4 linked regions of the Homo sapiens genome follow. The protein of the gene in region 1 interacts with the protein of each later gene in a pairwise test. Each region holds a gene or a part of one and is shown in the gene's direction. Other genes may lie near its edges. The genes, in order: RBM41, NINL, RALYL and BICD2.

Evidence for each region.
Region 2: the proteins of RBM41 (region 1) and NINL interact in binary tests that used the Homo sapiens proteins (3 or more experiments, as listed by UniProt).
Region 3: the proteins of RBM41 (region 1) and RALYL interact in binary tests that used the Homo sapiens proteins (3 or more experiments, as listed by UniProt).
Region 4: the proteins of RBM41 (region 1) and BICD2 interact in binary tests that used the Homo sapiens proteins (3 or more experiments, as listed by UniProt).

Annotation. Positions count from the first base shown.
Region 1 is NC_000023.11:107,087,819-107,094,846, reverse strand, and holds part of RBM41 (RNA-binding protein 41), read left to right. Parts: intron 1-5,956; coding exon of another isoform or gene 5,957-6,007; coding exon 6,008-6,411; intron 6,412-7,028. UniProt on the Homo sapiens protein: May bind RNA.
Region 2 is NC_000020.11:25,470,522-25,477,549, reverse strand, and holds part of NINL (ninein-like protein), read left to right. Parts: intron 1-460; coding exon 461-1,507; intron 1,508-7,028. UniProt on the Homo sapiens protein: Involved in the microtubule organization in interphase cells. Overexpression induces the fragmentation of the Golgi, and causes lysosomes to disperse toward the cell periphery; it also interferes with mitotic spindle assembly.
Region 3 is NC_000008.11:84,186,254-84,193,281, forward strand, and holds part of RALYL (RNA-binding Raly-like protein), read left to right. Parts: intron 1-7,028.
Region 4 is NC_000009.12:92,726,827-92,733,854, reverse strand, and holds part of BICD2 (protein bicaudal D homolog 2), read left to right. Parts: intron 1-4,618; coding exon 4,619-4,831; intron 4,832-7,028. UniProt on the Homo sapiens protein: Acts as an adapter protein linking the dynein motor complex to various cargos and converts dynein from a non-processive to a highly processive motor in the presence of dynactin.

The DNA of each region.
Region 1 (7,028 bases):
CTCTGGTTGAGCCTTGTCCAGATCCTAGAGGTTACCTGCATGCCTTGGCTCTTGACCCCTTCCTCACATTATCCTCTGCATACATCATCACATCTCCCATTCTGTCTCTGACCTTCTTGCTTCCTTCTGATAAGGACCCTTATGATTGCATTGGTCCCACCTGCATAATCCAGAATCATCTTCCTATCTCAACCTTAACATGATCACATTTGCAAATTCCCCTCTGCAGTATAATTTAACATTTTCACAGATTCCAGGGATTAGGATGTGGACATCTTTGGGGGGCCATTATTCAGCCTACCATAAGCAGGTTGAAGATGCTCCCTTCTAGTGTCAGTTAATTGAGCTTTTAAAAAATTATAAATGGGTATTGGATTTTGTTTAATGCTTTTTCTGCACCTACTGTGATGATCATGTGATTTAAGATTTAATCTATTGATTTTTAGATGTTACACCAATCTTTCATTTCTGGGATAAATCCCACTTATGTGTGTGTGATTATTTTGTATGTTGCTGGATGAGGCTTGCTAATATTTTATTAGGTATTTTTGCATCTATATTCATGAGGAATATTGGTCTGTGGTTTTCTTGTAATATCTTTGTTTAGTTTTGTTATCAGTGTAATACTGATATCATAGAATGAATTGGAAAGTATTTCCTTCTCTTCCCTTTTCTGAAGTGTTTCTGCAGGATTAGTATTATTTCTTTAAGTATTTGATAGAATTTACCAATGAAGCCATTTGGACCTGGGTTTTTCTTTGTGGGTTGTTTATTGAGTACTAATGCACCCTCTTGTTATTCGTTTTTTCTTTGAGACTGCTTTGGTAATTTGTATCTTTCTATGAATTTGTCCATTTATCTAGGTTTCCTAATTTGTTGGCCTAAAGTTATTTATAATATTCCTAAATAATTGTTTTTCATTCCCTAAAGTTAGTAGTGATGCTTCCTCTTTAATTATTGATTTTAGTCATTTTTGTCTTCTCTCTTACTTTCTTGTTCAGTCTAGGTAAAGGTTTGTCATTTGTTAAACTTTTCAAAGAACCAGCTTTTGGTTTTGTTGATTTTTCTCTATTTTTCCATTTTCTATTGCGTTGATTTATTTCTTAATCTTTATTGTTTTCTTCCTTCTACTTGCTTTCTGTTTAGTTGACTCTTTTTCTAGTTTCCTAACTTGGAAGCTCAGGTTTTAAATTTGAAACCATTCTTCTTTTCCAATACAGGCATTTAAAGCTTTAACTGTCTATCATATGGATGCAGCATTGTTTTAGCTGCATCCATAAATTTTGATATGTTGTGTTTTCATTTTCATTGAGGTCAAAATATTTTTAAATTTCCTTTATGAGTTCTTTGACCCATGGGTTATTTAGAAGTTTGTTGTTCAATTTCCAGATATTTGTGTTTTCCCGTTTCTTACAGTAGTGGATCACTAATGTATGTCCATTGTGGTTACAGAACATACTTTATATGATTTCAGTCTTTTTTAGTTTTTTTGAGACATACTCCTACCTTGAGACCTTACTCTAATATCAGTATGATAGATGCCCTTGCTTTTTTCAGGTCTTCACTCAAATAGCACCTTCTCAATGGGACCTATCCAGACCAACATTAAAAATTACAACCACCCCATAGCTCTTCCAATCTTATCTTGTATTTTTTTTCTTTTTTATAGCACTCCTACCTTCTAACATGCCATGTAATTCACTTAGCTCTACAAAGGGAGGAATCCTTATTTATTGATGCATCCTTAATTATTTTTTAGTGTATTTATTAATCTATTCATCCACTTGGACATATGTAGCTGAAATTTGTTCACTTTCTTTGGATGATAGTATTTCATCATATAAACGTACCAGAATTTTATAATTAATTCTTCTTAGATGAACATTTGTATTTTTGCTAACTCTGGGCAATTATAAATAGCAATGATCTGAAAATTCTTATTATTGTGTCCTGGTGCATATATGCCTACATTTTTCTAAGGTATATATGTGGGAGTTGAATTGATGGATTGTATGTTGAGCATATCTTCAACATTAGTAGATGATGTCATGTTGATTTGCACTGTGTATACACATTCCCACTAGCAATATGTGAGGGTACCAGTTGCTCTACAACTTCACTGACATGTAATGTTGGCATTCTTTTTAATTTTTGCCAATATGTTGGTTTTCTATTAGTATCTTATACCCTTCCTAATTTGCATTTCCCTGAATTCTAATGTGGCTGAGCACTTTTGTATATATTTATTTTATTATTTTTTTTAATTTAGAGACAGAGTATCACCATGTTGCCCAGGCTGGTCTTGAACTCCTGGGCTCAAGGAACTTTCCTCCTGCCTCAGCCTCCCAAGTGCTGGGATTACAGGCATGAGCCACCACGCCTGGCCCACATATATTTATTAGCTATGTGTATTTCCTCTTTTGTAAGGTATCTCTTCAGTATTTTGCCCATTTTCCTAATGGTTGTTCATCTTTTTCTTATTGATTTGTAGGAGTTATTCATGTATTTTAGTTTTAAGTTCTCTGATAATTCTTTGTGTAGCAAATATCTTTTCCTATCCTGTGGGGTTTTTTTTTTTTGGTCCATCTCTTTATGACATCTCGATGAACAGAAGTTCTTAATTTTAATGTAGTTGAATTTATCAATCTTTTCCTTAATGGTTAGTGCTTTTTGTGTCTTAGGAAATACTTACATAACTACTCCTATGCCTTGCTGGTGGAAATATAGAATAGTATAACTCCTACAGCGTGAAATTTAACAATACATAGAAAAATTACATACACATTTGCCCTTTGTCTCAGCAGTTTCACTTCAGGGAATCTATTTTAAACATATACTTGAAAAATACCAAATCCTGTATGCACAAAGCTGTTTATCAGGACATTATTCATAACAGTATGAGACTAGATATAAGACCAACGTGTATCAGGAGGGGAATAGTTAAATAAACTATGGTACATCCACACAATGGAGTACTGTGCAGCTTTACGAAGGAATGAGAAGAGCTCTACACATTAACATGGAACTATCTCCAGGACATATTGTTAAGTGCAAAAAAGTAAATTGTAGAACAGTGCTTATAGTAAGTTACTTTTTATGTAGGAGAGAGGTATAACTAATGAATTATGTATATGTGTATATATGCCTATTTGCTTATATTTTCAAAAAAGAAACAATGGAACCATAAGCCAAAACCTAATAAAAATTATTATTTATGGGGAATGAAGGGAATGGGATAAAGGGGACAGAGATGGAAGTGAGACTTCTGTGAAGGTACTGTATAACAGTTTCACTTTAGATCCATGTAAATATTTTGCATCATCTAAAAGTTTAATCAAAAAGGTAAAATTCAATCCCTAAAATTCAAAAACAACCTGAAGCAAATGAGCCTAATGATAAATAAAGTTAGTAGCATAAACACACAATTGGAAAACAAAGCAGTTACTTATAGTGACTTTAAAACATTTGTATATTTCCAATGGGACCCATATTCTAAGGGCAAAAGTAACTGCAAAAGAAATATAAAACTATATTCAGCAGTTTTATTGGTGATAGTATTGTTATTGACATTGTAAAATTCTGTAAGTATATTGTAGGAAGAAGCTAATGAATAATTTTGCTAATATTAAGCATATGAGAGGAGATACACTCTAAAATAAAGGAGTTTAAGTAAAAATCTTGTTATCTTAAATTTGAGTTGGAAATACCAATATAAACTCATGGTTTACTTTTCTCTTTAAAAATGTCCCTCTTGCTCAACAAACTAACACAAGAACAGAAAACCAAACACCGCATGTTCTCACTCATAAGTGGGAGTTGAACAATGAGAACACATGGACACAGGGAGGGGAACATCACACACTGGGGCCTTTCGGGGGGTGGAGGGAAAGGGGAGGGAGAGCATTAGGACAAATACCTAATGCACGCGGGGCTTAAAACTTAGATAATGGGTTGATAGGTGCAGCAAACCACCATGGCACATGTATACCTATGTAACAAAACTGCATATTCAGCACATGTATCCCAGAACTTAAAGTAAAATTTAAAAAAAAATAAATAAAATAAAATAAAACCATTCTAGTGGATCATTTTAAAAAAAATGTCCTAGCTTTTGTCCACTGAAAAGGCCTGGAAACAACAACTTGGAAGTTGCTTCTGCACACACCAGCAACACACTTTGGTTTCTAAATACCACTTCCTACTAAAAGGAACCAAGGGTCCCTACAAAAATATTCCAGGTTTGAGTTAGGAGGTATGCAAGATGAGCTTAGGATATTTGGCTGTGCCAGAAAGCCGAGAAGCAATACAGGAGCCGATTTGAAGGGGCTCCCACTGGTCTTAAGTGGGATAATTTGGCCACTAAAAAGAATAATGAGTATGTTTAATTGACACAGATAAAGTATATGAAAATACACGATTTCATTATTATACTAAAAATAACCATTGGTCACCATTGGACATTTTTTTTGTTTTGAGATGGAGTCTCACTCTGTCGCCCAGGCTGCAGTGCAGTGGCGCGATCTCGGCTCACTGCAACCTCCGCTTCCCAGGTTCAAGCAATTCTCCTGCCTCAGCCTCCCGAGTAACTGGGACTACAGGCACCCGCCACCATGCCCGGCTAATTTTTGTATTTTTAGTAGAGATGGGGTTTCACCATATTGGCCAGGCTGGTCTCAAAGTCCTGACCTTGTGACCCGCCTGCCTCGGCCTCCCAAAGTGCTGGGATTGCAGGCATGAGCCACCACGCCCGGCCTCCATTAGACATTTCTAAGATGTCAACTCTTACTCTCATAATTGGTAAATAATGGCAAAGAATCAAGCATTTATCCTGCCATTCCCATATGATCTACATTTTTAGGGAAACCACATAGTTGATGATGGTAAGTTCATTTTAGAATTACGGATAATAAGCGTAAAAGAAAGAATTAGGAAAGCCATGATTTGCAACTCTTAATAAATTAATAGACTAGGCAGTGGTCATCAGTGGATGTAAAAAACCCATTAGGTGGAAGGTGAATGGGAAAATTTAATAATGGAGGGATGAGACTAATGCCATCTACCACCTCAATCCACTGATCAATTTCAGTATCACTAAAAATAGGACCACCAAACGTTATGTGTCTTATGACATGATACAATAGGAAGTACATATCTGTCTATAAAGGATTATTTCCTAAAAATATTGAACCTGAACCTAATCAAACCTCTGGATCAGCACTGTCCAATGCAACTTTCTAAAATGATGTAATAGTTTTTATCTGTTCTGTCCAATATGGTATCCACTAGCCACATGTGACTGTCGAACACTTTAAATTTGTTAAGTTCGGCTGAGGAGCTGATATTTAAAAATTTATTTAAATAGACACATGTGACCAGTGGCTACTATATTAGGTAGCATAGTTATGGATTATCTGCCAAGAAATAGAAGGGATTAAGGAACAAGTTAAACAACACCATCAGAAAATGATTAATCAAATTCATTTGTTCATAGAACAAATGTAGTTTATTTAATCAATGGATGAGTGAGAAAATGAAATAAAGGGATGGGAGAGACGAGGCACTGTTTTAGAATAAAAGTATCTTAAGAGATATAACAGCCAAAGGCTAGTTTAGATTTTGAATTGAATAAACAAGTATAAAAAAATCTTAGATGGAATCAGGACAATTTGAACATAACATTGGTATTAGATGATACTAAGGAATTATTAATTTTGTGAAGTATAATGCTATATTGCTTATATGTTTTTAAATGTCCTTATCAATTAGAGGTGCATATATTTGCATGACTCTAGGTGCCTCACTTGCCTCACCATAGTTCTGGCCTATAGTTCTGCTTGAAATATACTATAATAAGATAACTATTTACCATTGTCATTTGTCACAGGTTGTAAAGACCTGCCCCAGCAGTGTTTCTTTATCTGAGGTCCAGGATTTAATTTTTATTAATTTGCCAAAGGTTGTATTGGTAGGCTTTGTAGAACTTCCCTATCTCTTTGTCTTGATCCAGATGAACCCCAAAAGAAGAACAAAGGTGATCCCATGAACAACCTGGAAAGTTTTTACCAAGAGATGATAATGAAAAAACGTCTTGAAGAGTTTCAACTTATGAGAGGTGAACCCTTTGCTTCCCACTCACTGGTCTCAGCTACATCAGTGGGTGATAGTGGCACAGCTGAGAGCCCATCATTACTCCAGGACAAGGGAAAACAGGCAGCACAGGGTAAAGGCCCCAGTCTCCATGTGGCAAATGTTATTGATTTTTCACCTGAGCAGTGTTGGACTGGGCCTAAGAAGCTGACGCAGCCAATAGAATTTGTCCCAGAAGATGAAATCCAGAGAAATCGTTTGTCAGAGGAAGAGATCCGAAAAATTCCTATGTTTTCTTCATATAATCCAGGGGAACCAAACAAGGTATAGGCCAAACCAAGTAAAACAACCTGGGTTGATTTCGCTTTTATTTACCTCTACCTAAAGTAATACTTTTAAATTAGCTTTGATTATACCAAAGAATCATGATATAGGCACAGTGATTGTGTTTGTCCTTGACCTTGACTATTCATTCTCTGCATACTATATAAGTAGCATATTTCCTATAAGGTTCTTGGTACTTTGCTAAGGTCCTGAACTATCCTTAGCGTTTTAAAGAAATCTTGATAAGACTCTAGTCCATACCCATTAGAAGCCCCGAATTGAAGGAATAGTAACATCCAATTTCCTACAGTGTAATAATCAAATAGTGTTCATAGGACCACCATAGCTGGTAGCCTTGGTGCCTCTGGAATTAGCCAATAATTGACTGCCTGGTCGTGAGTTGGGTATATGCTACCACATGAGTCTTCTCTTCAGAATGCTCTACCTGGCTGTCATATGACATATGACTTAAATTGCTGTTGGCAAAGCAGCAAAGTGAAAAGGTCCTATAAGCTTTAAGAAATTGTCCAACAAGGCCAGGTGTGGTGGCTCATGCCTGTAATCCAAGCACTTTGGGAGGCTGAGGCAGGCGGATCACGAGGTCAGGAGTTCGAGAC
Region 2 (7,028 bases), on another chromosome or scaffold:
AGAGGTCCCAAGGCCCAGCAGCTTCAGGGAATTAGGGGACAGTTTTGGCTCTGGGTCTCCAGCGCTATCGTGTAGAACCCACTGCAGTGTGGGCCACGTCGTATGTCTGCCCTGTCCAGTTGGGAGCCTTGAGGGCTTGGAACGTGGCCTGCACGGCCGAGGGGCTGCAACCAGGTCCTGCATGGTGGCGGCCATCTTCCATGTGAACACTCCACATGGAAAGGGTTCGTGCTTGGGCTTCCATGTGCAGAACCTCGCTCCGTGGGGCGGATCCTCGTCTGGACTCTGAAGTAGGGCCCAGGGTATAGGTTGAAGCCAGGGCTGAGGGAGGCGAGGAGGGATAAAGAAAGCCAACCACAGAGAGGAGGTCGCAGCCGTTGCAACAGCTGGGCAGACTTCAAACCCGAGAGAGGGGCTGGGGGCGGCAGGGCTGTGGTGTGTGACGGTTCTACTTCCACAGGAGAGAGGCTGAGGCGGAGCTGAGTGGAGAGCTGTCGGGGCTGGGAGCCCTGCCCGCTCGCAGAGACCTGACCTTGGAGCTGGAGGAGCCGCCGCAGGGACCCCTGCCACGCGGGAGCCAGAGGTCGGAGCAGCTGGAGCTGGAGAGGGCACTGAAGCTGCAGCCCTGTGCGAGCGAGAAGCGCGCCCAGATGTGCGTATCGTTGGCCCTCGAGGAGGAGGAGTTGGAGCTTGCCCGCGGGAAGCGAGTGGACGGGCCCTCCCTGGAAGCAGAGATGCAGGCCCTGCCGAAAGATGGGCTGGTGGCAGGAAGTGGCCAGGAGGGCACACGTGGCCTCCTACCACTGCGTCCGGGCTGTGGGGAGCGGCCACTGGCCTGGCTGGCCCCAGGTGATGGCAGAGAGTCTGAGGAGGCGGCAGGAGCCGGGCCTCGCCGCAGGCAAGCCCAGGACACAGAAGCTACGCAGAGCCCGGCCCCCGCCCCTGCCCCGGCATCCCACGGCCCCTCAGAGAGGTGGTCACGCATGCAGCCCTGTGGAGTGGATGGGGATATTGTCCCAAAGGAGCCAGAGCCTTTCGGCGCGAGCGCAGCGGGGCTGGAGCAGCCTGGAGCCCGGGAGCTGCCTCTGCTGGGAACAGAGAGAGACGCCTCGCAAACCCAGCCACGGATGTGGGAGCCACCCCTGAGGCCGGCCGCTTCGTGCAGGGGACAGGCTGAGAGGCTACAGGCCATTCAGGAAGAGCGAGCACGAAGCTGGAGCAGGGGCACCCAGGAGCAGGCCTCGGAGCAGCAGGCCCGGGCCGAGGGCGCCCTGGAGCCTGGGTGTCACAAGCACAGTGTGGAGGTTGCCAGGAGAGGGTCCTTGCCATCCCACCTCCAGCTCGCAGACCCGCAGGGTTCCTGGCAGGAGCAGCTTGCTGCCCCAGAAGAGGGGGAGACCAAAATAGCGCTGGAGAGAGAGAAGGATGACATGGAAACCAAACTTCTACATCTGGAAGACGTCGTCCGGGCTCTGGAGAAACATGTAGATTTGAGAGAGAACGACAGGTTTGCCTTCTACTCATTCTTAAAACTAAACACTTCAAACTAAAAATGCAGAACTAACCCACTGACCCCTGTTGCTAATGGTGCTATGTGGCCCTTCCTGCCGACAAGCTCGCAGCCCCTGATGGGGGCTGTGTAGCCCTTCAGCCTGAGTAGGGGTTGTGAGCCCAGCCCCGTCCCGGAATGCCACGGTCATCTGGTGCTCTACCACTGGGCAGAGGGAGGGCAGGACTGCCTTTCGGGGTCCTGAACCCACCTTCCGGGTTCAAGATATTCTTGTGCATCAGCCTCCCAAGTAGCTGGGATTACAGGCACCTGCCACCACGCCTGACTAATTTTTGTATTTTTAGTAGAGACGGGGTTTCACCATGTTAGCCAGGCTGTCCTCAAAGGTGATCTGCCCGCCTTGGCCTCACAAAGTGCTGGGATTACAGGCGTGAGCCACTGCGCCCGGCCCTCGCTTCCAAAGATTTTTCATTGTTGTTCCCAGAAGAGGCTGTATACCCATTAAACAATAACTTTTGCTAGTATTTTGTTGAGGATTTTAGCATCAATTTTTGCATCATAAGGGATTGGTCTGCAGTTTTCTTTTCTGGACTGTAGTGTCCTTGTCTGGCTTTGGTATCAAGTAATGCCTCATAGAATGAGTTTGGAAGTGTTCCCTTCTCTTCAATTCTTGGAAGAGTTTGAGAAGAGGTGGTGGAAGTTCTTTTTTAAGTGGTAGAATTCACCAGTGAAGCCATCAGCTCCTGGGCTTTGTTAGGAGGTTTTTTTGTTTTTTGTTTTTTGTTTTTTTTGAGACAGAGTCTCGCTGTGTGGCCCAGGCTGGAGTGCAGTGGTGCTGTCTGGGCTCACTGCAACCTCTGCCTCCCAGGTTCAAGCGATTCTCCTGCCTCAGCCTCCTGAGTAGCTGGGATTACAGGCGTGCACCACCAGGAATCAGGAATTTAAAACCTCGTAACAACTAGGGCACGGTGGTTCATGCCTGTAATCTCAGCACTTTGGGAGGCCAAGGTGGGTGGATCACCTGAGGTCAGGAGTTCAAGACCAGCCTGGCCAGCGTGGTGAAACCCCATCTCTACTAAAAATACAAAAATTAGTGTGGTGGCGTGCGCCTGTAATCCCAGCTACTCGGGAGGCTAAGGCAGGAGAATCGCTTGAACCCAGGAGGTGGAAGTTGCAGTGAGTTTTGAGATCGCGCCACTGCACTTCAGCCTGGGCAACAAGAGCGAAACTCTGTCTCCAAAAAAAAAAAATACAAAAATTAGCCGGGCATGGTGGCATGCGCTTGTAGTCCCAGCTACTTGGGAGGCTGAGGCAGGAGAATCGCTTGAACCTGAGAGGCAGAGGTTTCAGTGAGCCGAGATCACACCACTCACTGCACTCCAGCCTGGGTGACAGAGCAAGATTCCATCTCAAAAAAAAAAAAAGTTCCTTTAGTGAAACTCTGTTTAGAGTAAATTTCCTGTTTTTGCTTATCTGAAAAGTATCTTAAATGTTCCTTCATTTTTGTAAGACAGTATTCTTAGGAACGCACATCTAGCCATTAAATGGCCGCCTCTCCACCCTTGGAATGTCTGCTGTCCGTGTCAGAGACCCGGTTGCTGACACTGCATGGTTGGCCCTTGGTCCGTCTGTTCTTCCTTCGTGTGCATTTCCACGGACTTGGTGGCTTAACAAGGCACAAAAGTGCGATGTTTTAGTTTTAGAGGTTGGAAGAGGAAAGGGTCTCCTTGGGCTAGGAATGAGGTGCTGGCAGGGCTGCAGGGCCATCCAGAGGCCCCGAGGGGAGCTCCCTGCCTCACCTTCTCCAGTGGCCTTGACTTGAGGCGTCCTTCCATCCTGGAAGCCAGCCCTGGATGGCCGAGTCCTCCTCATGTCACCTTACTCCAACACTGACTCTTCTGCCTCCACTTTCTACCTCTAAGGACACTTGTGATTACGTTGGGTTCCTCTGGAGAATCCAGAATAATCTACAGTCAGAGAACGAGCAGCCTTCATTCCCCCTGCTGTGTAATGTCACATAGTCTCTGTTAGAGGCCAGTATTGTGCCATCCACAGTAGGTATCTGACTTTTGTGCTCTGGTTACTTCTGAGACCTGTATCTTTAGTGGTTTTTATTTGCTGTGTGCATTTCTTTCTTTTTAACTTTTTATTTATTTATTTATTTATTTTTTTGAGACGGAGTCTCACTCTGTTGCCCAGACTGGAGTGCAGTGGTACAACCTCAGCTCACTGCAACCTTTGCCTCCCAAGTTCAAGCAATTGTCCTGCATCAGCCTCCCAAGTAGCTGGGATTACATGTGCCCACCACCATGCCCAGCTGATGTGTGTGTGTGTGTGTGTGTGTGTGTGTGTGTGTGTGTGTGTATGTGTGTATTTTTACTACAGACGGGGTTTCACCATGTTGGCCAGGCTGGTCTTGAACTCCTGGCCTCAAGTGATTTGCCTGCCTCATCCTCACAAAGTGCTGGGATTACATAAGGCCTGAGCCACCAGGCCTGGCCACTTTGTTTTATTTTATTTTATTTTATTTTATTTTATTTTATTTATTTTATTATTTTATTTTATATTTTATTTTATTTTATTCATTGTAGAGATAGTCTCTCACTATTTTGCCCAGGCTGGTCTCAAACTCCTGGCCTCAAGCGATCCTTCTGCCTCAGCCTCCCAAAGTGGATCCTCCTTGAAATTACAGGTGTGAGCCACCATGCCCAGCCTCTTTTTAACTTTTTATTAAAGTGTGATACACATAAGAAAATGTATATATTTGTACAATTAGGAGAATTGTCAACAAATTGAACACGTCTGTGTTACCAGCGCCCAGAACAAGAGATGGAATTCACCAGAGTCCCCGGGGTAACCACTTCTTACAGCATAGATTCAGTTTGCTTGTTTTTGTACTTTATGGAGAGGAATCATGCAGTGTGTACTCTTCTGTGTCTGACTTTCTTGGCTCAACCTGGTTGTGCGATTGATCTGTGTTGTTGCTGTAGTTCATACATTTGCATTGCTGTGTGGTATTCTGTTGTGTGAACATACCACAGTTTATTCTTTTCTCCTGTTGATGGGCATTTGGGTAGTTCCTAGTTTTTGGCTCTCACAAATGGAACTGCACTGAACGTTCTTGCATTTGTCTTTTGGAGCATTATGTTGGGCTGTACCTAGAAATGGGATTGTTATGTTGTGGGTATAGGCATAGTTTTCTTTTTGTTCATCCTACTTAGAAAACATTGTCCCAGCCAGGCACAGTGGCTCACACCTATAATCCCAGGACTCTGGGAGCCCAGGAGTTCAAGATCAGTCTGGGCAACATAAGGAGACTGTTTTCTACAAAAACTTAAGAAAAATTAGTCACACATGGTGGCACGCACCTTTGGTCCCAGCTATTTGGGAGGCTAGATGGGAGGATCACTTGAGCCTGGGAGGTTGAGGCTGCAGTGAGCTGAGATTGCACCACTGCACTCCAGCCTGGGCGGCAGAGCAAAAGGGAAAAAAAAAAAAAAAAGAAATATTTTCCCTGTTGAATGTATGGATTGCATTGGTGTCTCATGAAAATCTCTCAGCCATTACTATTAAAATATTGCCTCTCCGGAGGTTGCAGTGAGCCAAGATCGCGCCATTGCACTCCAGCCAGGGCAACAAGAGCAAAACTCCGTCTCAAAAACAAAAAAAAAGTATATATATATATATATATATATATATATATATATATATATATCCTCTCCTCCCACTATTTTCTTCAATTAGATATGTGACTGTTAGAGCATTTCACTTTATGTCTCAACCTCTCTTTTATATTTTCCATCTTCTGTCTGTATCACATTTGGGGTATTTTTTACATACCTATGTGTTCCAGGTCAGTATCTCTTTCTTTCAGCTCTGTGTAATCTGCTATTTAAACCATCCCATGAGTTTTTATTTTGACATTGACTTTTTGTTCATTTCTAAAAATTCTGTTTGGTCCTGTCTGATCATTGTCAATAGTTTCTTGTTGCTTGTTCATTGTTTGTTGCTGTCTTTTATTTATGTAAACATTTCATAACACTTATTTTTAGTTTGTGTCTAATAAGTCCAATACCTGCAGTTTCTAGAGGATTGAATTCTGGCTTCTGGCTTCTGCTGTCATTTATGGGTGGCTTTGCTCCATGTATGTTATGGTGATCTTTGATTGTGAGCTCATATTTGCTTGATGTTAATCTCTGGGAATATAAAGAGCCTTATATGGGATGCTATTGCTTTTGCAGAGAAGTGAGAAGGTGCTAATCTGGGACTGTCTGAACCTCCTTCCAGGGCCCTGTCTGGTGCAGGTGTCCACAGTGCAGCTTCTCCATTCTGCTAATAGCAGTGCTGACACATAGGCATTGGTTGCAAGGTCCCCCCAGCTTTGTGTTGCATAGTGCTCACGCGTTGGTTTCAGCTTCCAGGATTTTGTTTTGTTTGGAGATTCTTGCAGGTTTTCTTTTCTTTCCATGAGGACAGTCACAGAGGTTGCGATCAGCTTTGCGCAGGATCTAGTTGTTTGGTGGTCATGTGGGGGATGGGGTAGGGCACCCCTCAGCTTTCGGCCTTGCATCAACTTGTTCTCCATTCTAGAGCCAGAGTGATAGTTTAAAAACACAGAACTCTCCTGCTTGAAACCCTTTGCTGCCTTTAATTCCAGTGACTATTTATTTTTGTCTTTAGTTCCTCATGAGATAAAATGAAGGCATATGAAGAAGATACTTATGTTTACTATTATAAGTATAATACATAAAGCGGGCTGGGCGTGGTGGCTCACATCTGTGATCCCAGCACTTTGGGAGGCCTAGGTGAGAGGATCACCAGGAATTCGAGACCAGCCTGGGCAACCTATCGAGACCCCATCTCCACCACAACAAAAATTATCCAGGCGTGGTGGCGCATGCCTACTGTAGTCCCAGCTCCTGGGCCTGGGAGTTCAAGGCTGCAGTGAGCCATGATCGTGCCACAGTACTCCAGCCTGGGTGACAGAATGAGACCCCATCTCAAAGAAAAAACAAAAAAATACATGAAGTGAACATGGTGAGATCATGTGGCTTTCAGTATTTTCAGACTGAAAAAATAAGAAGCTAGTACCATATGGAGACCTATTTGGGGAATACACGTTAGCCTTACCAGTCAGTATTAAGAATGCATTCTCTGGGTAGCAAGTATGGGTCTTAAGCTACTTCACTGGTGATCTTTTTTGTTTTTTCACAGACAAGGTCTCACTATGTTGCCCAGGAGGGTCTCAAACTCCTGGGCTCAAGCAGTCTTCCTGCCTCAGCCTCCCCAGTAGCTGGGATTACAGATGCATGCCGCCACTCCTGGCTCCCATTAGTGATCTTCATTGGTAAATTGCCATCTTCATCTATCAAATCAATGGCATTACCCAAGCAGGGACTCCCTGAGTTGTCAGAGAACAAAGACGGCCCAGGCAGACTTGGTTCACATAGTGGCTGTCTATCCCTGCCTTTTCCCACTTTGAGATTCACCTAGCAGAGGTTTCCCATATATCTTGGCC
Region 3 (7,028 bases), on another chromosome or scaffold:
TTTCTTATTTTGTATAGTGAGCTAATTACTAAAATACAGTCTTTCATATGCCTCAAACAGCTAACATAAAACATTAAAAAAGCCACTTGCAACATTCTGTGATTTTAAAAATCATTTCAATTATAACAATGTATGTACATAGAAATGCTCATTTATTAAAATGCAAGACAATTTATGTGTATAATATATTTTTGTATGTTTTATGTATTGTAAGTCGTTTAGTTCTTTTAAGAGAGAGAGAGACAGAGCAAGCAAGCAAGAACTTGAATGATCGAACCTGCATTTTCATTAAGAGAATCAGTTGCTGCCCTAAGGTTGAGGTAGTATGTGGTTTAAGATTGGGCAAAGCACTAGCTGTACTGTGTGATATTTCCCAATGAGATTGAAACAATTAATGGGACCAAAGACGATTTTAATGTGAGGACAGAGAGGTAGTTGTGCTTTAATTTCTGTAACTTAAGATCATTCTAAGAACCTTTAGTTATCTATGTTTTCATTTATTTAAGATTCATTTTTAATTATATTGTAGACTTGTATTACATTTCTATCTATTACATTCAAATTTTTCAGATTTCTTCCTGTGTGAATCATTCTGGGAATTCTACAACTCTTAAACTGGCCACCTGTTTAGTTTTTGATTTAAAATTGTTGAAGGTAGTATCCTAGATTTAGCACCGCCTACTGGCTTCTCATGGAAAAAATGTATTTTTTCATTCGCCAAGCGACCCACAGGGATTTAGATCAATTTAATTGTGCAGATCTTTTCAACTGCTTACTAAGCGAGAAGGAGGGAAAAAAAAGTTTCTATTTTGTAATGAGAGAGGGTTTCCAAGGTAAAGGTGGGGACTGAGGGAAATAAGACCCACAAATTAAATTGGCATTGGATCACTATCTGACCTCAAACATTGTACTATCTAAACTGTGACAAAGAAATAATCACAAAATGAAAACCTGTTAAATTTTCAAGAACTTTTTATGGGATAATAAAATGTGGGTATTGTTTAAAATCTTGGATTACTAAATTAATTTTTCAATGTCTATCTCAGTCTTGATATAAAGAAAGAAAGTTCTAGTTGGAATTCTGTCTTGAGTGTGTGGTCTGTTGAAGAATATTTAAATGAATAACTTTTCATCATTGAAGATTAACAGTTAATTATTTTTCATATTTATTTTTTATGGTCATAATCAAGTAACACCCTGATTTTTTTCTTAACATGCATCAAATAGCCACACCGTGGTGGTGTATATACAAGGGGGAAAAGTTCCAAACATAAAATTATAAAGACACATCCTTAGCCATAATAGATGTGTTACCTTTCTTAAAAATGATAATTGGTTTATTTTCTCTAATTTATATGAAAGTCTAGTGGTTAAAAGAGCTACTATAATAATACAAATAAATGATGCCTTAAGAATATACAAATTGTTAATTAGAAAAATAATTTGATATGCTAAAATTTTCTTCCTAATTAAAAGAAATGTGAAATATTTGGATAGCTGTTCCTTAAATGCAATATTGACTTATTTTAAGAGCCAGTAGTAAGTATATAGAAATTCCAGTGAGAAGTATAGGTCTGTTGCGTTTTTGCAACTCTACCCCAGTAAAAGTGTGGTCATGTTTTGTTTACTGTTTACTGATAGTGTAAGCAACTAATTAAGCAGGGCATTCATTGATATAACTCTACATTTCAAGTCTTCAAAAAGCTCCATTATGGAAGTAGAAGAGAAGTGAAGTGGGTATGTAAGATTGTTTGAATAGTAAGGACGAATTTGAGAAAAATATTTCAATTACAATTGATTTTTCTCTCTGACTTTTGAAACTTTTATTTTTATTTTAGTTGTTTATTTTTATTTTTTCTTTCCAACTTTTAGTTTCAAGGGGTACATGTACAGTTTTGTTACATGGCTAAATTACATGTCACAGGGGTTTGCTGTACAGATAGTTTTATCGGCCATGAAATCTTTATTTTTAAATGATGATTAGCTGAGACTTTAAAAATAGTTATTTCTTTACTTCTTTTATCATACTGTCATTATGAAAACTCTGTGTTTTGCTATGAAAACCTGAAGTAATGATTAATTTTATTCTTCAAATTTTTATGGACTTCCAGAAAGTAAATAATAACATGTTTAAAAAGGTCCTTATTGATCTGCAGTTATTGTTATTATTCTCTTATTACTGTTACTATCTACTACTTCCAGTGACCTGTACGAATGCTTGTAAAGATGCCATTTCCATAATTCAGTTTGATTCTTTGATTTAATAAATTTCTCTTCAGTAATTGGCAGGCAACATAAACTTTCATTTTATTGGCAATAACAACAGTTTGTTTTGCTAAATCATGATTTTGAAAACAATATTCAATAACATGTAAGTAATATCTGATTTCTGAATGTATCAATAGCAAGTTACACTGTTAACAAGTTTACATAATTATACTTGTCATCACCCTTCCTTTTATTATTAAATTTTGATGTGCAGACTGCATAGATATAACACAGCTATTGCCAACTTTAGTAGTTTTGCTTATCCTCATTGCTTTTAGATTTTCAATAATACATTGGGAATTTTGTTTTCTTTTGTTAGACTTATGTTAAATATCAAACTTACCTTGTGGAAAATTAACTTTGTGTTTTTCTAAATTCTTCCTTACGTTTAAAAAGATTTTTGTTTGCTAGTTTTGAATTATCCTGCTATTTTTCTGGGACTGAGTCCTGGAAAATAGAGGCATTGGTTTAATGTCTTTTTCTATCCATTTGTAGCCACAGAGATGGCAGTTGGAGGACTTGAGTTAGTATTTAGGATTTACATTTTCTGGGCTGTCCTTGCAGACTCCTCAGCTGGGGGTCAAGACTCTAAGAGTTATTTATTTGACCATGTAAAAATCTAAATAGAGAGGAAAATTATGGAGTAGAACGTGGAAGTCTTGCACTGGTCTTCTGAAAGATACAATAGCATGCATCACTAAGTGCTCTTATATTACAAAATACTAGAGATTTTCTGTGCATAAATATGTTTGGCAAAATTCCATTTAACTCACTAATATGCTTTTTGCTTGAATTCTTTCCCAAACTTCAGAGTGGGAATTGATTGCATTCATACATAATCCATGTGTTTAGAGAAAATGTTTATACACATTTTGATAGCCATATGCTAAATAATAAGAGGAGCAACACATTTCTGAGTCATTTCGGAAATTATTAACAGGTGGGAGTAAGGAACGGCTATTTTTTCATTAAATCAAGATGAGAGGGAAAGAAATTGATGTGTCAAATGAATGCAATTCCATTTGTACTTCCCTTCCGTGATTAGATAATAGTATTATTTTATATGTTGGAGGAAACTGAGACTTGGAGCTCAGAGCTCCATAGGTGGTAAAGGGAAATTTGACATGTAGGAAGTCTTAACTGACGACTCATGTTTTTTTTTTTTTTCCTACACAGATATGCTTCATTTGTGGAGATGATTTTTTTGTTTCTTTTGTTTTTCCTAATATAAAACAACTGTTATGTATTTATTCTTGATACATTACTTAAGATGTCTGTAGTTTGGCAAGTTTTCAACAGGGAGTGCTTTCCACTAGTGAGTGCTTTGAGCAGAAACAAAAGAATATTGCCCCACACAGATACTCTTAACTGGTCCTGAAAGGACCTTTCTGTGACCATGTCATCACACATCTCTTCAAGACGGGTTTTCTGAAGAGAGCCAATGCATGGCATCACATTTGTGAGTTACCACTGTTGCTCTGTGGTTGGGTCAGAAGAGACGGTTCTCTGTCCTTAGTTGCTTTGCAGAGAGCCTGGGAAACACATTCAGCATTTACTTACTGAGTACAAAATGTAATCTCTACTCTTGGAGCTTTTGCAGTGTGATGTGGAAAATTAGTCTTTTGTGCAAGGAAAGCTGAACAGCTAATTCTTTCATAACACAGAGCTCTGTAAATATAGGTGTCTTGTCTGTCTACCAACATCTCACCATCAACATCATAACACCTCACAATTTTACTGTTACACATATTTGTATGTGACATTTATCAAGCTCATTTTATGTTAGTAACATAAAACACATATAAGTGTAACATATTATTTGAGGATTCTGTGTTTAATTGCCTCTTCAGATGTGCAAGAATGTCTTCCATCATTAGTTTCCTTGGAACTTGAAAAAGTGAATACTTTCAATGCAGAATGGGAAACATAAACTATAGTGGAAACAGTGTGAATGCACATGATGAGATGGATTTTTAAAGACTTGGTCATAAGTCCTCACGTTCATAAAATCAGTGGATTTAGAGGTCAAAGTATAGGGAGGGTTAAATGCTGCCTTTGAATTTTGGAATCTGGATATCTTGAAAACAGGTGGTATAAAACAAAACAAGAGAAAGTAGTATCTGTAGGAGAGCCTTATTTGGTTGGAGGTGGGAAAATGATTCAATTTTGAACATAGTAATTTGAAGTTCTGACATTAACTTCTGGATTAAATGACCAATGTGCAATGGAAATTCAGGTCTAGAGCTGGGAAGCACACTTAAGGCTAGAAGGAGATATGACAGTATCATCTACATTAAAACTCTTTAAGTGGGAATAAGTCCTGCACAGGTAGAAATTTGGGAACATCTGCTTTTTTTTTTGAGTGAATGTAAAAGGGGCTGATAAAGGGCAGAAAAATAGAGTTAGGATGATAGCCACTGAAGCTCAGAAAAAGTATGTGGGGTGTGTGTGTGTGTATGTAAGTATTGTTCAACAGAGCTAATGCTGCATAGGCTCAAAAGAAGATAAGACCTGAGATAAAAGCTTTGTAATCTGTCATTAAAATCCATGAATTTTTGAAATAAACTAAATGAATGTGATTGATGATCCTCAATATGATGTGGCAGCGTCATAAAGAGGGCTGTTGTTCCCAGGATTGTATGTGTCGTGTGTGTGTGTGATTGTGTGTGTGTGTGTGTGTGTGTGTGTGTGTACAGTGATAACATGATCTAAATAGGAAGACCAGTAGGAAGTTTTTCCTGAAACTAGCTAAATTGATTTGAAATTTATATTTATATGCAAAAATAGCAGAGAATATTCTGAGAAAGAAGAGAGGGCTAACCTGTTACATAATAAAATACACTATAAAGCTTTAAAAATAAATATATTTACTAGCTATGTCTACTGAAAAATCTTCAAAGCAATGTCTTTCAGGAAGCAATGAGCCCTTCTAGTGCACAAAGCATGGCTTCTTAATATCATTCCCCATTCAAGAGGACAAGAGCCCTTTAGTCTTCCTTAACCTAGAATTGGCTGATTCTAAGTCTGGGCAGAAAAAACACAAGATGAGCCTGGGACAACTCACTGCAGAAAGTAAGGAAATGGTCAAAGACAAATAAGGCTGTATCATTGTAAACAAGTGCTAGCTTGAAGGGCCTTCCAGTTGTGCAATTTAAATCAGTTTGAATTTCAAGAGTGAATATAACAAATTGTAAACGTTGAGTAAAGTAAAATCCATGAGTGCATAATGATACTCTAAATAAATATATAAAAAAGAAAAATGACAATTAATAATTAAATTGAGATAATTAAATGATTAGCCTGCCTTTCTTAGTTGATGAGGGACAGCTTTTTACAAAATAATGTGAATTAAGTGTAAGAAATGTAAGAATTAGAAAATTACTATTTGTAACTCTCAGTGAAGTAAGTGATTCAGTCAAAGATGATCAACAAGTGATAAAATAATCAATTAAAATTATTTTGATGAATAACATATTCTCATAGTGCTCAAGTATTAATTGCATCTGCAAGTCATCGTTTTAAGTGACTGAATGATTTAACCCAACATCACCAATAGACAACCTGACACTATGAGCCTCCTGACGAGATGCCATATAAAGGCTATAGTGCCATTTGTGAAATATTGTTGCTAGAATGTCTAACCTGAATCTAATAAAACCTGGTTAGATTTAACTTCCAGTTTATAGAAAAATTCAGAGAAAGGACCAGTTAAACTAAACCATGAGGAAATAATGAGACAAATGCATAAGGTGAGGTATTCCACATTGAAGATACATACCAGCCCTGTGGCCTAGACTTGTAAAATGTCAGTGCCACTGTGGGAGGACTTTTCCAGATTAAAAAGGACTAAAGACAAACAAATGCAGTGCTTGAAGATTTATTTTATTTCACTTTTTAAAAATGTGGTCTATAAAAAGTCAAATTTTGGTAGAATTGGGAAATTTTTCATATGGGCTAGAAAACAGATGATATTAGCAGATGAGTGCTGAATTATTTGGGATAAATGCAGTGATACATGAAACTGAATTTTCTTTTTTTTTTTCTTTCTTTTTTTGAGACAAAGTCTTGCTCTGTTGCCTAGGCTAGAGTGCAGTGACACGATTTCGGCTCACTGCAACCTCCGCTTACCATGTTCAAGCAATTCCCCTTCCTCAGCCTCCTGAATAGCTAAGATTACAGGCGTGTGCCAACATGCCCAGTTATTTTTTGTATATTTAGTAGAGACAGAGTTTCACCATGTTGACCAGGCTGGTCTTGAGCTCCTGACCTCGTGATCTGCCTGCCTTGGCCTCCCAAACTGCTGGAATCACCGTGCCCAGCCCGCAACTGAATTTCTTATGAGTCATCAAAGGAGTGAGGGAGGGAGTGTGTGTGTGTGTGTGTGTGGGGGGGGGGGTTGTGTACGTGTATATGTAAAATAATCATTTGTTAACCAACTTTAAATCAGGGAGTGCTTATGCTGGTTTTATTGTGTTATTCTTTCTAGTATTCCATCTATTTGAATTTTTTTTCGTAAGGAAAGTTGAATAGTCTATTAGTTGCCATTGAGAAAAAAATATGTTTATTGAGGCTAAATAGAAGCAGAAGTCCAATTGCCCATGTTTAAGGTCATCTGGGATCTTGAAGATATGGAGACAAAAAAAATGAAGTTTAATGTTAAATTGTGGGAATGAAATATTACTCATCGAAGTAATATTATTGAAGGAAGGATATTTTTAAAGCCACAGTAAGGAAAATATGAATGCATCTTTATGTTTTTC
Region 4 (7,028 bases), on another chromosome or scaffold:
GCTGGGACTACGGGCGCCCGCCGCCACGCCTGGCTAATTTTTTGTATTTTTAGTAGAGACGGGGTTTCACTGTGTTAGCCAGGATGGTCTCGATCTCCTGACCTCGTGATCTGCCCGCCTCGGCCTCCCGAAGTGCTGGGATTACAAGCATGAGCCACCGCACCCAGCCTATCTTCTGAAAGTTTTATAGTTTTAGTTCTTATATTTAGGTATTTGATTCATTTTGAGTTAATTTTTGTGTATAATGTGAGGTAGGGGTTCAGCTTCATTATTTTGCATATATGTATCTACTTGCCCCAGCATCATTTGTTGAAAAACTTTTTTTTTTTTCCTCTGTCGTCCAGGTTGGAATACAGTGGCGTGATCTCGGTTCACTGCAACCTCTGCCTCCTGGGTTCAAACCATTCTCCTGCCTCAGCCTCCCAAGAAGCTGGGATTACAGGCACCCGCCACCACGCCCAGCTAATTTTTTTTTATTTTTAGTAGAGACGAGGTTTCACTATGTTGGCCAGGCTGGTCTCGAACTCCTGACCTCGTGATCTGCCCGCCTCGACCTTCCAAAGTGCTGGGATTACAAGCATGAGCCACCGTGCCTGGCCGAAAAACTATTCTTTGACATCAAATTATTTTTGTACCCTTGCCAAAAATCAATTGACCATATATATGAGGTTTTATTTCTGGACTCTATTCTATCCCGTTGGTCTCTGTATCTATCTTTACACTAGTACCACATTGTTTTGATCACTGTAGCTTTGTATTAAGTTTTGAAATTGTGAGTTCTCTCACGTTGTTATTCCCTTTCAATATTGTTTTAGCTCTTCTAGGCCCTTTGCAATTCCATATGAATTTGAAAATCACCTTTTCCATTTCTGCTAAAAAGGCTTTGGAATTTTGGTAGGGATTGCATTGAATTTCAAGTTAATTATCTTTTAAAGAGATTTAAATAAGAAAAATAAGTACTTTATATTTGCCTATTTAATTATCATTTCTTCCATGTAGATAAAGATTTCCATATGGTATTATTTTTCTTCTGCCTGAAGGATTTTATTTAGCATATCTTTAAATACCAATGCATATCTGCTGTTGATAAATTCTTTCAGCTTTTGTATCTCTAAAGTATTTCACCTCTATTTGTGAACAGTTTTCAGTGAGTATAGCATTCTAGTTAAGTTTTTTTGTTTTGTTGTTTAAAAGATGTTGTTCCACTATCTCCTGGCTTGTTAGAGAAATCAGCTGTCATTTATCTTTGCTCCTCTTGAGTCATGTATCCTTTTTCTTCTGGCTGATTTAAATATTTTTATTATATAATTGGTTTTAAACAATTTTATATTATGCCTTGGTGTAGTTTGCTTCATATTTCTTGTGCTTGGTGTTGACAAGCTGCTGATATCTGTGGGTTTATAATTTTCATCAAATTTGGAAAATTTTCAGCTATGATTTATTTCTTCAATTACTTTTTCTATTTTCCCCTTTTTCTCCTTTGGGTACTCCAATTACTCCTTACATAAGGCTTCTTGAAATTGTGTCATACTTCATACTTCACCAATGCTCTGTTTGAGTCTTGCTTTTGTCTTTTAGCCTTTTTTTCTCTGTGTTTCATTTTGGATAGTTTGCTGTGGTTTTTCAAGTTGACTGATCTTTTCTTCTGCATTGTTTTATCTGCTGTGAATCCCATCCACTGTACTTTTCGTCTCTAGAAGTTCTATCTGGATCTTTTTCTGTCTTCCTCATTTGTGCGCCTTTGCCTGCTCAGTGGTAAGTGACGGGATGCCAGCCAGTGGACCTCACCTGTTGGGAGATGGATGTTTTTGTATTCCTTCATGTGTTCTTGAGCTTTGTTCTGGGATGTAGTTAAGTGACTTGGAATCAGATTGATCCTTTCAGGTTTTGTCTTTATGCTTTGCTCTGTGGTATCAGAGCAGATTTAATCCAGACTAATTTTTTCAGGCCCTGGGAGTGCTCCCCAGCTGCCTGTGCATCAGGAGGGCTCTCCTCTGCTGTTGGGAGCAGGTACTGTTTTTGGCTGGTATAAATGGTGGGGATTGCTTTCTCTGCCCCCTCAGTGGTCCTTCAGTGACTTCTTCAGCTCTGTGCTCCCTGGTCCTCAGTGGAGATTCTGGCCCTGTGTGCAGGTCTGCCTAGCTTGGCTGCCCTGCTGCCATCTTCCGCCATCTTCCAGTCCCTCCTTGACAGGGTCTGCCACGCCTTGCCTCAGTCTCCCATTTTTCCATGGCTGGGAAGTTCTTTTGGTGGAGGGGGCTCCTGGAACTCCCCTCCTCCTGTCTCTCACTATCTAGTGCCCATGATGTGAAAACCACTGCTTATTATTTATTTATATTCTATCATTGCCTGGTTTTTTTCTTTTTCTTTTTTTTTTTTAAGTTTTCACACAGAAGGTAGTTCTAATTTCTGCAACAATCTCATCTTGGCTGTACGCGGAAGTCTGTATCTCAGTGTGTTTGAAAAGCTGCCCAGGAGTGTTTTGGGCCCCAGGCTGGGAGCTTAAGCAGAGGAAAAGATCCAGGGCTCAGGCCAGGAGGCTAGGACTTGAATGTCGTGTCATGGCATTTAGCTGTCATACCTGGAGGAAGCTTCTGAGGTGATGTCTGCATCCCCAGCTCCAGGCTCGTGGGTGTGTTCTGAGCAGCCATGTGTGCTGGACCCTTCATTTGGGTCCCTCCTGCTTGTCAGGAGGCCCAGATGGTCTGGCGCTGCCCATGCCGCCTGCAGCCGGCGGGCCCTTCACCCAATGAGGGACTTGGGGCCTGGCTGCCACTTGGGTGGGGAGCCTGCAGCTGGGGCCAATTCCATGTCCGGTTTCCCTTCTTGTGGCCCGGGGTGGCTGGCCAGGGTGGATGAGGTGCTGTGTAGACATTATGATTTGGACCTTCCTTGGGACTAGGATAAGGAAGAACAGAGCAGAAATCACAGAGCTGACCCGATTGCCTTGAAGAAAAGCGGACATCTTCCACGTAGTGGGTGTTGTGTTGATGGGTGGGGGCAGGTGAGCAAGACCCAGCCTCCTCAGGAGTGTGGGTGCCATAGACATCTGTGCATCCGCAGCAGGAGTGTCCATGTCAATCCCGAGTCCCCCCGTGCAGTCCCATTGCCAGCACCAGTCTTCCTGCTGGGCTGTGTTGTCCTGTTAGCCTTGTTTAGGGGTGTCCCCCGCAACACCACGAGACACACACACACAACACATACATCACAGCACATGTCACCACACCTGCCATAGCACATGTGTGCTCTTCCAGGCAGGATCCTGTGATCCTCACAGTGCTGTAAGATCAATCAGTCTGTCTTCCCCTTGAGTCCCCTGTTGGTCCCATGAGAGTCTATACTCAGACTAGACCCTGGTTTCTTTTACCAGTCTCCTGTTGGGACGAAATGAGTTACTCTTTGTTTTGATTTCTTGAAATTAGAAACTGTCCTGCTCAGTAACATCCTTATTCATGGTTTTTTACATTTTCCCTATTTTCTTGGACTGAATTCTTAGATTTAATATTAAATAGTAAATGAGTGAAAAATGCTCCTTTTTCTCTTTTAGGAAAACAAAGCCATCCGCTTTCAGTCACCTCTCTCTTGATCTTGTTTTCTGCCATGAGCCAGGATTAATGTAAAAAGATAAGGTCTTCTGCAAGAGCTCTGTGGTGGAGTGGCCAGTGAGACGGGCTGCTGGGGGTGACACACTGCGGCCCGTCTGCCCTCTACCCATGGAAGCCCTGTCCTGCCACGCCAGCTATGTGGGGGTAGTGGGCAGTGGGAGGGAAGGAGAGGGATGGCACCTGCTTGGAGGCTGGGCCACTCGCCTGGGGTGTACACGATGGGAGGCTGGCTGGCCTGGATTTTGGGGCATGGACATGACACAGCTGTCGACTCTCAGGTGCGTGGGCAGGTGGGCGTCCTGGGCTAGGTGAGCACCCCTTTCTGGTTGATCTCACCCATAAGGTCTCCTCCCTGAGCCCCAAGGCCCTGCACTTCTTTGCCACGTGCAGCCCCCGCGCCCCTTGTTCCTCACCCCTCTGGAACATGCTGGTATCTTGGCTTCTGAGCCAGGAACTGGGCAGAGTGGGTGGTACACTGTGCTGGCCTCTGTCTAGTTCTTACCATCACTGCCATCCTCGGGCCTGGGGCTCTGACTGCTCAGCCCAGGTCTCTCCCAGAAGGAGTGAAGGATGAGCCAGCATCAGGCAGCAGGATGGACAGACTCCCTCTGCCTTTCATATGTGGTGGCCGGCGTGCCATCTGGAGTGGGGAGAAGGTGGGGGCTGTGTGGGAGCTCCCTCTGCCGGCCCCCAGCTGCTGTCACACATGCCCACTGTAGCTCCCTGACTCCAGCACTTGTCTTGCCAGTGCAGACACTGTTCCTCAGAGACCAGGCTTTCTCTTATTTTGGTGAAGCAGATGAACCTTGGGTGCAGCTTGTTGCATTTGCATATGTGCACACCACAGTGCACGCCACAGATGCACCTCCCAGGTCAGGGGGCCTCCCTTCAGGCCCACAGTCCCCGTTGTTGTTGCTGTTGTTCTGCAGCATGAATGTCGCCTGTGAGCTGGGTCTCTATCCTTCGGCGCCCCTGGGAGGCCCACCTCACGAGTGTCTTGTCTTCTGATGCAGGCCTTTGGACAAGCACACACAAACCACAAGAAGGTGGCTGCTGACGGAGAGAGCCGGGAGGAGAGCCTGATCCAGGAGTCGGCCTCCAAGGAGCAGTACTACGTGCGGAAGGTGCTAGAGCTGCAGACGGAGCTGAAGCAGTTGCGCAATGTCCTCACCAACACGCAGTCGGAGAATGAGCGCCTGGCCTCTGTGGCCCAGGAGCTGAAGGAGGTGAGGGGGTGAGGAGGGGCCTAGTCTGTGGCTGCAGCAGTGCCACCAGTGTCACATAGCAGGTGTGCCTGGTGGGTGGCTGGGCTGGGCTGGCCTCTGGGGACGCTGCAGCTGGCTGGTCTGTCTTGCTTTCCTGGTCTCATCCTCCACTGCACTCCACTGCCACTGTCCTCCACGTGGCAGAAGGGAGAGAGATGGACCCACAAGTTCCACTGCCTCTGGCTTGCTTCTGTCTCACTCATGAAGCGAGTCCCATGAGCAAGTCCAGAGCAGAGGAGTGGTCAGTCAGGGAGGGGTGCAGTTAGCCCCTTGTGGAGGCTAAGGGCTGATGCCCATGGGGCACTCCTCGTCATTGGACTCCCCCCTGCCCTGGGAATGTTTTGTGTCACTCAGGGCCTGCACTGTGCCCAGCTGTAATAAGAACACAAACCCCAAATATTCCATGGAGACTCGAGGTAGGGTGTGCGTGTCTGAGAATTAGGGGTGGAGACCACCGCCAGTAGCCCCAGCTGCCACACCCCTGCCTTGTTCACAGCAGAGTGCCCGCAGGGAGGGTCTGGGTGGGTGGTCCCTGGCACCAGAGCCTGTTGGAGTCCTGGGTACCCATGGACAGCCATTGGTACATGGCACAGGCTCTACATCTGGAAATGGGACTGTGGTGTCCGTCCATGAATCCGTCCAAGTCCGTGCATGACTTGTGAACATGAAGTCAGAGGAACCAGCTTGGCTCTTGGGCCCTGATAGGGGCAAAGGCCACAGGACCAGCTGCTCATGGCCCTGACACTAAGGCCCTGGAGTTGTGGAGGACTGGGGAGCCCAGGGGAACGATGTGGCCAAAGCAGGATTTGGGAAGGTTGCTGTGGTGCCTGGAACCTGTGTAGTTTGAGCCCAGCAGGAGGAGGAGAGCCAGGAGTCTCCATCCACTGGGGCAGGTGGGAGGAGAGTCTCGCTGGCTTGAACAGGAGGCTCAGGGAAGGTTGAGTGAGCACCTGAGTGTCTTTTCTCACTGACTGGCACATATTTTAATTGAGCCCTGCCAGGGCCTCGGTGTCTGTGGAACCTGAGGAAACAGTGTGAGCAAAGCCTCATTCTCCTAGAAGGCATGTGGCAGATATCAGGGGAGAGCAGTACCCCGTGCCTGTCCCTGGGGCAGGGGCATGTTCACTGTGGTGCTGAGCCAAGGGCAGGAGGAGTGTCAGGAGAGTCCTGCAGGCCTGGGTGGGGCCCTGAAGGAGGCAGGGTCCAGCTTGGGTTTGGTGGCTACACGGGGAGTGGGCTGTGGGGACAAAAGTGAGGCTGAGACGACTGTCTTGGGGGCAAGAGGGGCCAGTGCCTTCTGAGGAAGGATGAGGCCCCATCACCAAGATGGAGGTGGGATGGTCCCTGGGGACTGCAAGTGGAGCTGGAAGTTGGCACGTGAGCTGCAGTCCTCCTGGCCGTGGCCTTTGAGGGTCAGCCCCAGGTTCTCATTGGGAATGGCTGGAGGAGTGGAGCATGGGTCGGTTGAGAATGGGCTGATACTGGCTTTGCCTTTCACTGAGCCTTGGGGCCTGGGCAAGGCCTTATCTTTAGTCCTGGCCTCAGTTTCCCCATCTGTAAACCGGCAGTCTCTGAAGCCCGTTGTAGAGGATGCCCCACAGGTCTTTCACCCCACATTGTGGGAGCACTTATGGACCCTTGTTCCTGACACAGGAGCACCACCCTCTGCAGCAGATAATCTTACGGGAGGTCAGCAGGGCATAGGCCCTGAGGGTATGCAGTGATTAGGGCTGCTGCTGTTGGCTTAGCATTCCAGTACTGAAGGATGCTGCCCTCGGGGTCAGCAGCGGAGTGAGGGGTCAGAGATCGCTGAGGCCCTAGGGGCCCAGGGAGGAGCTTGGCTTAGACTCAGGGTGGGGAGTCTCAGATCCTGAAGCGGCAGTACATGATCTCATTTCCTCTCACAAGGAGCCCTCTGGTCGGTGGGAGGAGGGGCTGTGTGTATGGAGAGATGTATCCTTGGCTGCCCCAGCTGCCATCTGTCTGGCCCGTCTATTCCTGAAAAGCGTGTGCAGGTGCTGTCTCCCCAGCCCAGCACATTCTGCCCCTTCTCTCTTCCAAGAGGCCTATCTCTGGTGGCAGAGGCCAAAGAGGGCTGGGTGACCCTGCTGGCTTCAGGTAAGACTGGAAATGAGCACAGCAAGTTAAAGATGCTGCA